2 separate regions of the Homo sapiens genome follow, and region 1 is linked to region 2. Evidence: fine-mapped expression QTL. A gene starts in region 2. The other region holds a variant in brackets. All regions are shown on one strand. Distances are from middle to middle.

Region 1 (5,388 bases), 110 kb after region 2:
CAAGTAGCTGGGATTACAGGCACCCACCACCATGCCCAGATAATTTTTGTATTTTTAGTAGAGATAGGGTTTCACCATATTGGCCAGGCTGGTCTCAAATTCCTGACCTCAGGTGATCTGCCCACCTCAGCTCCCAAAGTGCTAGGAATACAGACATGAGCCACCATGCCCAGCCCCATCCATCAATTTATTACAAGGAATTGGCCTATGAAATTGGGACTCACTAAACAAATCTGAAATTCATAGGACAGATCCTCAACATTGAAAGATCATAGGCAGGCTGGAACTCACAGGCACAGATTGAGACTACTATACACAGGAAGCATTTCTTCTCTTCTCAGGGAAGTCTTAGCTGTGCTTTGGAGGTATTTTATCTGATTGATTAGGCCCATCCAGATTATTTAAGAGAATTTCCCTTATTCAAAGTCAGTTTATCTGATAATTCAATTATATCTGCAGAATATCTAGCGGTACCTACATTAGTGTTTGGATAACTGGACACTATAGTCCAACTAAGTTGACATTAGAAAAAACCATCACAATGGGCCTGGATTAAAGAAAGATAGGGTAGAAAAGAGACTTGAGCATGTGCTCAAAGTTCTGAATGTATTCCTTGGTGCTTCCCTAGGGACTGCTGAAGAGTAGCTCATTCAGTAAACTAATAATTTTCTAATGTAATAATAACTGTCAAATACAATAATAACATACCCCAATTGTGACCCATGTGAAAAAGACTAAGGGATGTTGGTGAGACTCTGAAACGCTAAACTTAAAGGGTAGGCGCCAGGAGTGGGTGGATGTGAACAAGCCTTGGGGGACTGTGAATTGGTGACCTGCCTTTGATTTCACAGGGACTTATTCTCAAGTCTTGGACATACCACTACACTTTCCTTTCCTCTCAGGTTCCTCACCTGTAGGTAATTACTTCCAATAATAATTTAGCTTAAGTCTTATATGTTGTAAAACGCTGCATCTTCATGCACATATGTATACACATATGCAGAGACACATACATAATACTCTACATACATATGTATATGCATCTTCTCAACAAGCCTTTCTGCAGAGGCATTCAGACAAAGGCAACATTTGAAGAACAGAAAACTGAAGTCAGTAATCTTAACTGACACAACTTCACATTGCACTTTTTAAGTTTCATTTAAAACTTTGGGTCAGAATGTATACACTAAGGTATTATTTGGACAAGTAACACTTCCTGGGTTCCTGGGAAGCTTGCTTTTTTTTTTTCCTTTTAGAAAATAAAAGGGTCTTGTTCTGTCACCCAGGCTGAGGGCTGGAGTGCAGTGGTGCAATCATAGCTCACTATAACCTCAAACTCCTGGGCTCAAATGATCCTCCTGCCTCAGCCTCCTGAGTAGCTGGGACTACACATGCATGCCACCATGACCAGCTAATTTTTTAATTTTTAATTTTTGTAGAGACATCTTGCTATGTTGCCCAGGCTGGTCTCAAACTCCTGGACTCAAGTGATCCTCCCACCTTGGCTTCCCAAAGTGCTGGGATTTCAGGTGTGAGCCACCATGCCTGGACCCCGGGAAGCTTTTTGCCTCTTCTCCTGTCCCCTCCAAATATGCCATCTGCCTCCCAATGCCTAACATTTTATTAACAACAGAAAAGCCTTCCTTTCATTCAATATAAGAAATAAGTTTAAAATATAAAATATACTTGGGAGAGTTAAGAAGGTAAGTGACGTGTTCACACCAAGACATTTTATTTCAAGCCAATGACAGATTATTCCACTTCTTTTTTAGGTTTTGATGAAATATAGGAATGCCTGCTTAAAGGGCTCAGTAGACAGGAGGGACCACCACTATTTGAAGAGATGAGAGTTGAAAGATAGTAGAAGACTGAAGAGGGGTATTGATGCTTGGTAGTTTGGTTGAGAGCTGGCCCAACCAACCTACAATACAGAAGTTTCAAGAAGTTCTGTTGACTTGTGCTTTTTAAAAATCCTTCTTAAGAAAACAATCATAGTTATATGTTTGGCTAGTCAAGTCCATGCCATTATAATGAGTTTGCATCAGATTTATTTGAGTGTGTTAAAAGGGAAACAGGCTGGGCATGGTAATCCTAACACTTTGGGAAACTGTAATTCCAGCACCTGTAATCCCAGCACTTTGGGAGGTTGAGACAGGAGGATTGCACAAGCCCAGGAGTTTGAGACCAGCCTGAGCAACATAGTGAGACCCCATCTTTACAAAAAATAAAAATAATTAGCTGGGTGTGGTAGTGTGTTCTTGTATTCCCCACTATTTGGGAGGTTGAGGCAGGAGGATCACTTGAGTCTGGGAGGTTGAGGCTGCAGTGAGCCGTGATTGCACCACTGCACTCCAGTCTGGGTGACAGAGCAAGACCCTGCCTCAAAAAAAAAAAAAAAAAGAAAAAAATTTTTTTACAAGAGGAAAATTGATCATGATCATATTTCTTCCTTTTCCAGCTATAACTCCCGGAAATAGGTATAAACAAATGCTGGTGTGTGGGACTTTTTGGCAAAATCATCCCAGGATTTCCTCAGGAGACAGGAAAAGACTTGAAGTCCTAAAAATGTATCTTTAGGGCAAAATAAACCCACGCCAGTTGGGTGTGGCCATCAACACTCCCAGAGGCGGAGTCTGCATTTTAGCAATGGTAGCGGGCCTGCTCCATGAGTATCTGATGAGATAGCTCCTTGGAAAGTGGGTTGTGAACCATAAAACACCACATCTGTTGCGTTATTAGGTGAAAGCCTATTGGAAAATCATGGGGAAATATTTTTTCACAATTGCAGCTTCTGGCTTGGTGAACACACGGAAGTGCTGCCAGGGGG[C/T]CCCGGGAGGGCATGGGGACTCCGTGCCCCAACCCCACTTCCGTGCCCTGCACATCTCTTCCACTCAACTATTCCTAAGTTGTATCCTTTATCATAACCCAGTAAACATAACTGAAAAAAATCAAAAGTGAAACTACTTAAAGCAAGATTTAAAAACATCTAAATGCTGAAGTGATTAGAAAGGGTTTCAGTTCTTGATAAAAAACAAAGTTCAGGAGTGTTCCTCAAAATGGAAAAGAACTGTAAAAGCCACTAACTCTTCTCTGAAGTTTAAAGTAGACCAGATGACTCAGGGCTTTTATTAGAAAAGTTTTTGCACAATAGCTGTTTCACCTTTTGGTGAAACAGCTGAAACTCAGGCAGAAATGCTAAGGAAAAGCTAAAGTCCTACTTCAATTTATTTAAACTGCCAGTTAGCAGGAGCCTAATGTATGCAAGTCAAACCCACTGCCGTCTTCCTGGCCCCGGGTCCTGACTCCTAAAGTGGCCACAGGAGACCCTGGCCTTAGAAAGAAATCTCTCCTGACCTCTCTAAGGATTATGCCGGGTTTGCCTGCCCCACTCTTCCCCCAGCAGAGGGTGAGAGAGCCTCTGACCATTCTTAAAGGCCGCCCTCCTTCACAAAGCTCCGGGACTTTCGAGTAGACAGGTCATGGTGGGGAGTGCTGGGGAGCTCCTGCTGTTTAATTTGGTTTGACTAACAGAAAGTGTATGCAGAGTGGCCCTCTTACCTCCAAGTGGCTCTGGTGTGCTCAGTCCCCAAGTTTCCTATTTATGTTAGTAAAATTTTTGGTACTCTGAGTCCCTTTGGTTTGTGGTCATTGGAAGAGACAGAGGTTGACCCCTTTGTTCACCCTCATCCTGGACAGCATCTGGATGGGTCTTGCCCTCCTGCCTTACTGAGTCCAGTGCTAGGGGAGAGGACACAGCAGGCCCCTGCCCCTGAAGGAGACTGCATTGGAATTTTTGCCAGGTGGCCCTGACACATAGGAATGCCCAACTACTGTGACTACCCTCTGAGATAAAAAGCTGTCCTACTGATTTTAGAAGGCCAAAATTAGAGGTCATTTTGGAGGTCATGCCAGTGGACATATAACAGTTTGAAATGCTTGTTCCCCGGTGCCGTAAAGAAATAGTACTTGAACTTAAATTTATTCAGCAAGGCCATTTTTATTTTCTGCAGAAAGGGTACACTTGGCAGCAGTTTTGCCACGAGAGTACCCCGAACAAAGGAGACAGGGTCATTTATAACCTGACGCGTCCACCCTTCTGCTGTGTCCGGTTTCCATTGGCTGGAACAGGACCTCACATTCTGTATTTGTCCCGATTGGCTAGCAACTTAGAACTTATTAAAAGAGGCAAAGCTAGAGGAGAAAAAAGGAAGGAGGAAGTAACTTGTGGAATGCTGAGAAAGGTAAAAACACCTTTAAATAAGGAAGAGAAACAGGCTATGAACTAATGCCTGCTTGGACCAGTATAAGCATGCCAGGGCAAATATTTAGGCTAAATTGTGGGAGCTAAGAACATAAAGTATATTGGTTTTCTTATTACGACTAGCAGATATTTAAGAATGTTAGCACAGGTTTTTGAATAAATTTTGCTTCTAAGAGAAGTTATTATTTATTCCTAATTAAATGGAGAGGAAAGTCTTTGAAGAGGAACCTCTATTTTTACATAGAACCTTGCCTGGTAGCGCAAACTAGAATCAAGGAGTCACAGAGAGTTAGAACTGGAAGAACCTGAGTGATCTGTCTCCCAGCCCAATTTCTTCCCGTACCAGTGTGGAGATGGAGAGTGAAAGTGACCCATCCTGGGCTGCCCAGCCAGCGGAGTTAACACAAGAACCTGGGGTTTCATCCTGCCAGTTGAGGTTGCATTGTATATGTTTGTTTTCCATTCTTTTTTTTTTTTTTTTTTTTTTTTTTTTTGAGACAGGGTCTAGCTCTGTCAGGCTGGACGGAATATAGTGGCATGATCTTGGCTTGCTGCAACCTCTGCCTCTTGGGCTTAAGTGTCCTCCCATCTCAGCCTTCTGAGTAGCTGGGACTACAGGTGCACACCACCATGTATTTTTTTGTATTTTTTGTAGAGATGGGGTTTCGCCGTGTTGCCCATGCTGGCCTCAAATGCCTCAGCCTCCCAAAGTGTTGGGATTACAGGTGTGAGCCACTGCACCTGGCCTGCTTTCCATTCTTACCTCTGTGTTAATGACACAGCATTTTCAAGACAGTTTTGTTCCTATTCTTTACCCTCTGCAAAGGGTGTTCTTGATACACAGACACACACACACACACACTTATATGTTTTAGGCAATTGCAGATATTTGCTTCTAGTCCAGGGTGCCAGTTACAGAGGTCCCCATATCTGCTGCTTTGAGGCTAATGCTGAGCTGTGGGATTATTCTTTTCATGAGCCCCCTGGCTCTGCTGCTTGGTTGCAGGGCTGGCTCAGATGACTAAGAACACAGGACCACAGGAGCAATGGTCCAGTGAGGTATGCAGTGGAGCTCTGGCTCCACCAGCCTCACAGCATGAAATTAAGACGTCATCTCTGGTCTTTGC
Region 2 (5,388 bases):
CCAAATAGAATTCAGTTTCATCTTGGGCATAAACACCTTCAGTTTTAAGAAGATTTGTGTGCTCCCTTTGGTTCCAGAGACCCTGCTTATAGCGCAAAAATGGCCTTGGATGACAGCCTTCCAGAAATACTTGCCTTTTAGAAGTCATGTTCCAAGCAGGCCTCGACAGGCTTCATGATGGCAGGAAGAGCTGGATTATTTTTAATTGCAAATCCCATTTCACATTTTCATTCTCTTGATTTTAGTTCCATCAGTGACTTTTAAGGTCCATAAAATCAGTAACTGCTGTTATTATAAGCCATTCTTTATATGTAAACCAATCTTGATTGGTTTATATATAGATGGTATATATCTAAATACATATAGGCTGGACGCAGTGGCTCACACCTGTAATCCCAGCACTTTGGGAGGCCAAGGTGGGAGGATTACTTGAACCTACTAGTTCAAGACCAGCCTGAGCAGAATGGCAAGACTCCGTCTTTACAAAAATAAGAAAAAGCATGGTGGCATGCACCTGCAGTCCTAGCTACTCAAGAGGCTGAGGGAAGAGGATCACTTGAGACTGGGAGGTCGATGCTGTGGTGAGCTGTACTCACATTGTTGCACTCCAACCCAGCCGACAGAGCAAGACTGTGTCTCAAAAGAATACATGCATCCATACAGATGATGTATATTTAAAAGAGCTAATGGAACAATTGCTCTGTTATTTATACATTCTTGTTTTTGTATGGGGAGAATCTGAATGGAAAAGAGAATAGTTGTGTATTAATACCAGAAGCATGAGATGATTTGAAGACAAAGGCAGTGTAAAAGAAGGTTCAGCAACAAGAATGAGAGGAAAACAGCTCAATGAGTCAATTTCCTGGAAAGAAATAGAAGACTAATTTAAGAGGTTGAGCGTAGTGTTCAGTAATAGTTGTAATGAACATTAGTAATCAGAAAAGGATAATGAGGAATCATTGTTGATCAGTTGTCTCTAAGAACAGCAACTCCTAAATGAACAGAAAGACTAAACTTTGTTTTGCTGGAGATAGGAATTTTTTTTTAAACCATTCAACCTGAGAGTTACAGTGTACTATTTATATTTGCTTGTTTTGTTGAAGTCAGTTTAGTTTCCTTCAGTTTTTAGAATGTGAGAAGTGAGATTTTATTTTGTCATTTTTCCTTAATACAGTTTCCTAAAAATTTTACCTTTGCATCCTAATAAGTGTTCTTTACTGCTTTGGATATTTTTGGCATAAAGAACAAAATTAATTCATACTCTGGTTATATTACTTTGTGGGTTTTTTCTCTTTAATTTTATTTTTATTTCAAAGGACCCTTTCTCTGAATTTTTCCCAAGAAATTGAAAAATCCATGGGACAAGCTTCATATCACCTTGTATATTATTGGAAGTACTAAACAAAATGGACCTGAGAAACATAGCCCCTACCTCAAATTCATATCATTTCTGTCACTTGTTTTGTTTTCCATTTTTAATGCATAAAATAGCAATAACAGTAACCAGCCATAATGGATAGGTGTAAGAATCATAAGTCATTTTGATAACGATCTGCTATCCAGTATGCATTGCTGAATTTTTAGTCATAGAAAGATAATGCTAGGTATTATTTCAGCTTTCTAATATGGACATAATTCATATTATTTCTAAAGTAATTGTTGATGTGAAATGAAACTGCTTTAATATCAAAGGAGAGTTGTATACAATTATATAACTTGATATTTTAGGAATATTATCAGGCTATTAGTAATATTAATAAAAGTCAGAATTAGAAAGCTTAAGCAACTAGCTTAAAGTTAATGAAAGAAAGTTAATGACTGAACAATATATAATATAAACAATTTATATCCGATTCTTTAAATTCTTGAAAAATGACGTTAAAAAATTCTCCATTTTTGTTCTAAAAGATTCAAACTGATACAGATATATATAGGGCGAAACATCGCCTCTTTTACTCTCCCCAATTTTTCTTGCAAAGATAACCTATGTCAGTAAGTTGGTATGCAGCTTCTTAACATCTTATAACCCAACACAACCAATTAGTGCGTTACTACTAATTAGTAGCTTACTACCAATTAGTACCTCACGTATTAAGTAGTACTCAGTATTTTTTGCAACCAAAAATATTTTGAAAATTTTAAAAAGAGCACTGGAGGATAATATAACAACATTTATGTTCATTCTAAATTTTTTCCCCTATTTTTATTAAAGGAATAAAGCATAAAGTTTAAGTCTTCAATGCGTATTTAACACAACATAAATATTTTATTCATTAAAAAGTTTACAAAAAATTGTATTACTCGATATACATCTTATTTGAACTAGCCTTTTCCATTCAGTAGCTATGTTGTTTGATAGCTAGAGTCTGTTGATTGATATTTGGGTTCTGAATAACTAATGTTTTCAAGTATCCTTTAAAAACTATTATTTTTATATTATAGGAGATATTTCAATGTGTATATTAGGAAAACTCTAACTGCATTCTGAAAAAATAAGTTCCTGAGATTTCCGTTCAGCAATACTTTTGAAACACAGATAAAATTACTTCCTGTCTCTTAGCTTCCTGTATCCATGGCAACCTCTGTTTTACACATTGACTGTAAAGGAACCAATGTGAAGAGTGGTGTTTCCTGAGCAAACGGTGACTTAAAAAAAAAAAAAAAAAAGTGGTGGGGTGGAGGTCAGCAGTGCCACAGAACAAACTGGAGTTAAGAAATGTCGTTCTTCAGATTTAAAAAGAAAACCTTTACTGAATCAGCTGAGTGTTAATAATACGAATTTCCTTTTCTTGGTAAGATTATTTACTTAAATATGAACTTCTAGCTGACATGAAAAATAGTTCTGTGAAAAACTGTAATTTAGAATTTAATTGTTCTGTAGTGAATTTGTATTTTCATAAATTATAATGTTATTTGATATTAGACTTTATGTTGTTAAAGGGACATATTAAATTCAAAGATTCTCATTCCTACATCATTTGTCACCTGTGTTGTAATCAATTGTAATTTTTAAGTTAACTTAGCAAATGTTTCATTAATCTGAACTATTTTGTCAAATAGTGGGTTAATGGCCTGATCATGTTAATAATTCTAGAACGTATTCCATACTCATTATTTTTTGCTATTACCATGGTATGATTTATGATAGTATTATTGGCTGATCCTAATTAAAATAGAATACAGAAGTTATAGTATTATAAAAAAAATTCATTTGATGAAGTTTTCGTGATTTAAAGCTTTACCTTCTCTTTTTATAGCCAATTCTGATCTGAACAGAAAATCCAAGAACAGGGATATGTGTGGATTACAGTTTTCTCTGCCTTGCCTACGACTGTTTCTGGTTGTTACCTGTTATCTTTTATTATTACTCCACAAAGAAATACTTGGATGTTCGTCTGTTTGTCAGCTCTGCACTGGGAGACAAATTAACTGCCGTAACTTAGGCCTTTCGAGTATTCCTAAGAATTTTCCTGAAAGTACAGTTTTTCTGTATCTGACTGGGAATAATATATCTTATATAAATGAAAGTGAATTAACAGGACTTCATTCTCTTGTAGCATTGTATTTGGATAATTCTAACATTCTGTATGTATATCCAAAAGCCTTTGTTCAATTGAGGCATCTATATTTTCTATTTCTAAATAATAATTTCATCAAACGCTTAGATCCTGGAATATTTAAGGGACTTTTAAATCTTCGTAATTTATATTTACAGTATAATCAGGTATCTTTTGTTCCGAGAGGAGTATTTAATGATCTAGTTTCAGTTCAGTACTTAAATCTACAAAGGAATCGCCTCACTGTCCTTGGGAGTGGTACCTTTGTTGGTATGGTTGCTCTTCGGATACTTGATTTATCAAACAATAACATTTTGAGGATATCAGAATCAGGCTTTCAACATCTTGAAAACCTTGCTTGTTTGTATTTAGGAAGTAATAATTTAACAAAAGTACCATCAAATGCCTTTGAAGTACTTAAAAGTCTTAGAAGACTTTCTTTGTCTCATAATCCTATTGAAGCAATACAGCCCTTTGCATTTAAAGGACTTGCCAATCTGGAATACCTCCTCCTGAAAAATTCAAGAATTAGGAATGTTACTAGGGATGGGTTTAGTGGAATTAATAATCTTAAACATTTGATCTTAAGTCATAATGATTTAGAGAATTTAAATTCTGACACATTCAGTTTGTTAAAGAATTTAATTTACCTTAAGTTAGATAGAAACAGAATAATTAGCATTGATAATGATACATTTGAAAATATGGGAGCATCTTTGAAGATCCTTAATCTGTCATTTAATAATCTTACAGCCTTGCATCCAAGGGTCCTTAAGCCGTTGTCTTCATTGATTCATCTTCAGGCAAATTCTAATCCTTGGGAATGTAACTGCAAACTTTTGGGCCTTCGAGACTGGCTAGCATCTTCAGCCATTACTCTAAACATCTATTGTCAGAATCCCCCATCCATGCGTGGCAGAGCATTACGTTATATTAACATTACAAATTGTGTTACATCTTCAATAAATGTATCCAGAGCTTGGGCTGTTGTAAAATCTCCTCATATTCATCACAAGACTACTGCGCTAATGATGGCCTGGCATAAAGTAACCACAAATGGCAGTCCTCTGGAAAATACTGAGACTGAGAACATTACTTTCTGGGAACGAATTCCTACTTCACCTGCTGGTAGATTTTTTCAAGAGAATGCCTTTGGTAATCCATTAGAGACTACAGCAGTGTTACCTGTGCAAATACAACTTACTACTTCTGTTACCTTGAACTTGGAAAAAAACAGTGCTCTACCGAATGATGCTGCTTCAATGTCAGGGAAAACATCTCTAATTTGTACACAAGAAGTTGAGAAGTTGAATGAGGCTTTTGACATTTTGCTAGCTTTTTTCATCTTAGCTTGTGTTTTAATCATTTTTTTGATCTACAAAGTTGTTCAGTTTAAACAAAAACTAAAGGCATCAGAAAACTCAAGGGAAAATAGACTTGAATACTACAGCTTTTATCAGTCAGCAAGGTATAATGTAACTGCCTCAATTTGTAACACTTCCCCAAATTCTCTAGAAAGTCCTGGCTTGGAGCAGATTCGACTTCATAAACAAATTGTTCCTGAAAATGAGGCACAGGTCATTCTTTTTGAACATTCTGCTTTATAACTCAACTAAATATTGTCTATAAGAAACTTCAGTGCCATGGACATGATTTAAACTGAAACCTCCTTATATAATTATATACTTTAGTTGGAAATATAATGAATTATATGAGGTTAGCATTATTAAAATATGTTTTTAATAATTTGTGAACAGTGTATTCATTTAGCAAATATTTTCTTTGATATATACTGTATTAAGTAATAATAGCTAACATTTCTGTGTATCAA

The links. PIP is the estimated chance that this variant, and not a neighbour inherited with it, causes the effect. A credible set is the group of variants that fine-mapping cannot tell apart.
Region 1: its variant is the best candidate, but not a certain one, in a credible set for the expression of LRRC70 in whole blood (TOPMed, PIP 0.77).

What each region holds. Positions count from the first base shown.
Region 1 is chr5:62,687,167-62,692,554 of GRCh38, forward strand. No RefSeq gene overlaps it. Among named protein-coding and RNA genes, the nearest start is that of LRRC70, 110 kb to the left of the region's middle. The variant C/T (reference allele first, on the strand shown) is at 2,828.
Region 2 is chr5:62,576,144-62,581,531 of GRCh38, forward strand. LRRC70 (leucine rich repeat containing 70) reads left to right here and starts at 2,676. Exons shown (of 2, transcript NM_181506.5): 1 at 2,676-2,792; 2 at 3,258-5,303. The coding sequence starts at 3,296. The coding sequence ends at 5,164. The region is part of intron 27 of IPO11 (importin 11); the gene reads left to right. It overlaps IPO11-LRRC70 (IPO11-LRRC70 readthrough), which reads left to right and starts at 2,592. Exons shown (of 4, transcript NR_073584.1): 1 at 2,592-2,792. It also overlaps the pseudogene RPL35AP14.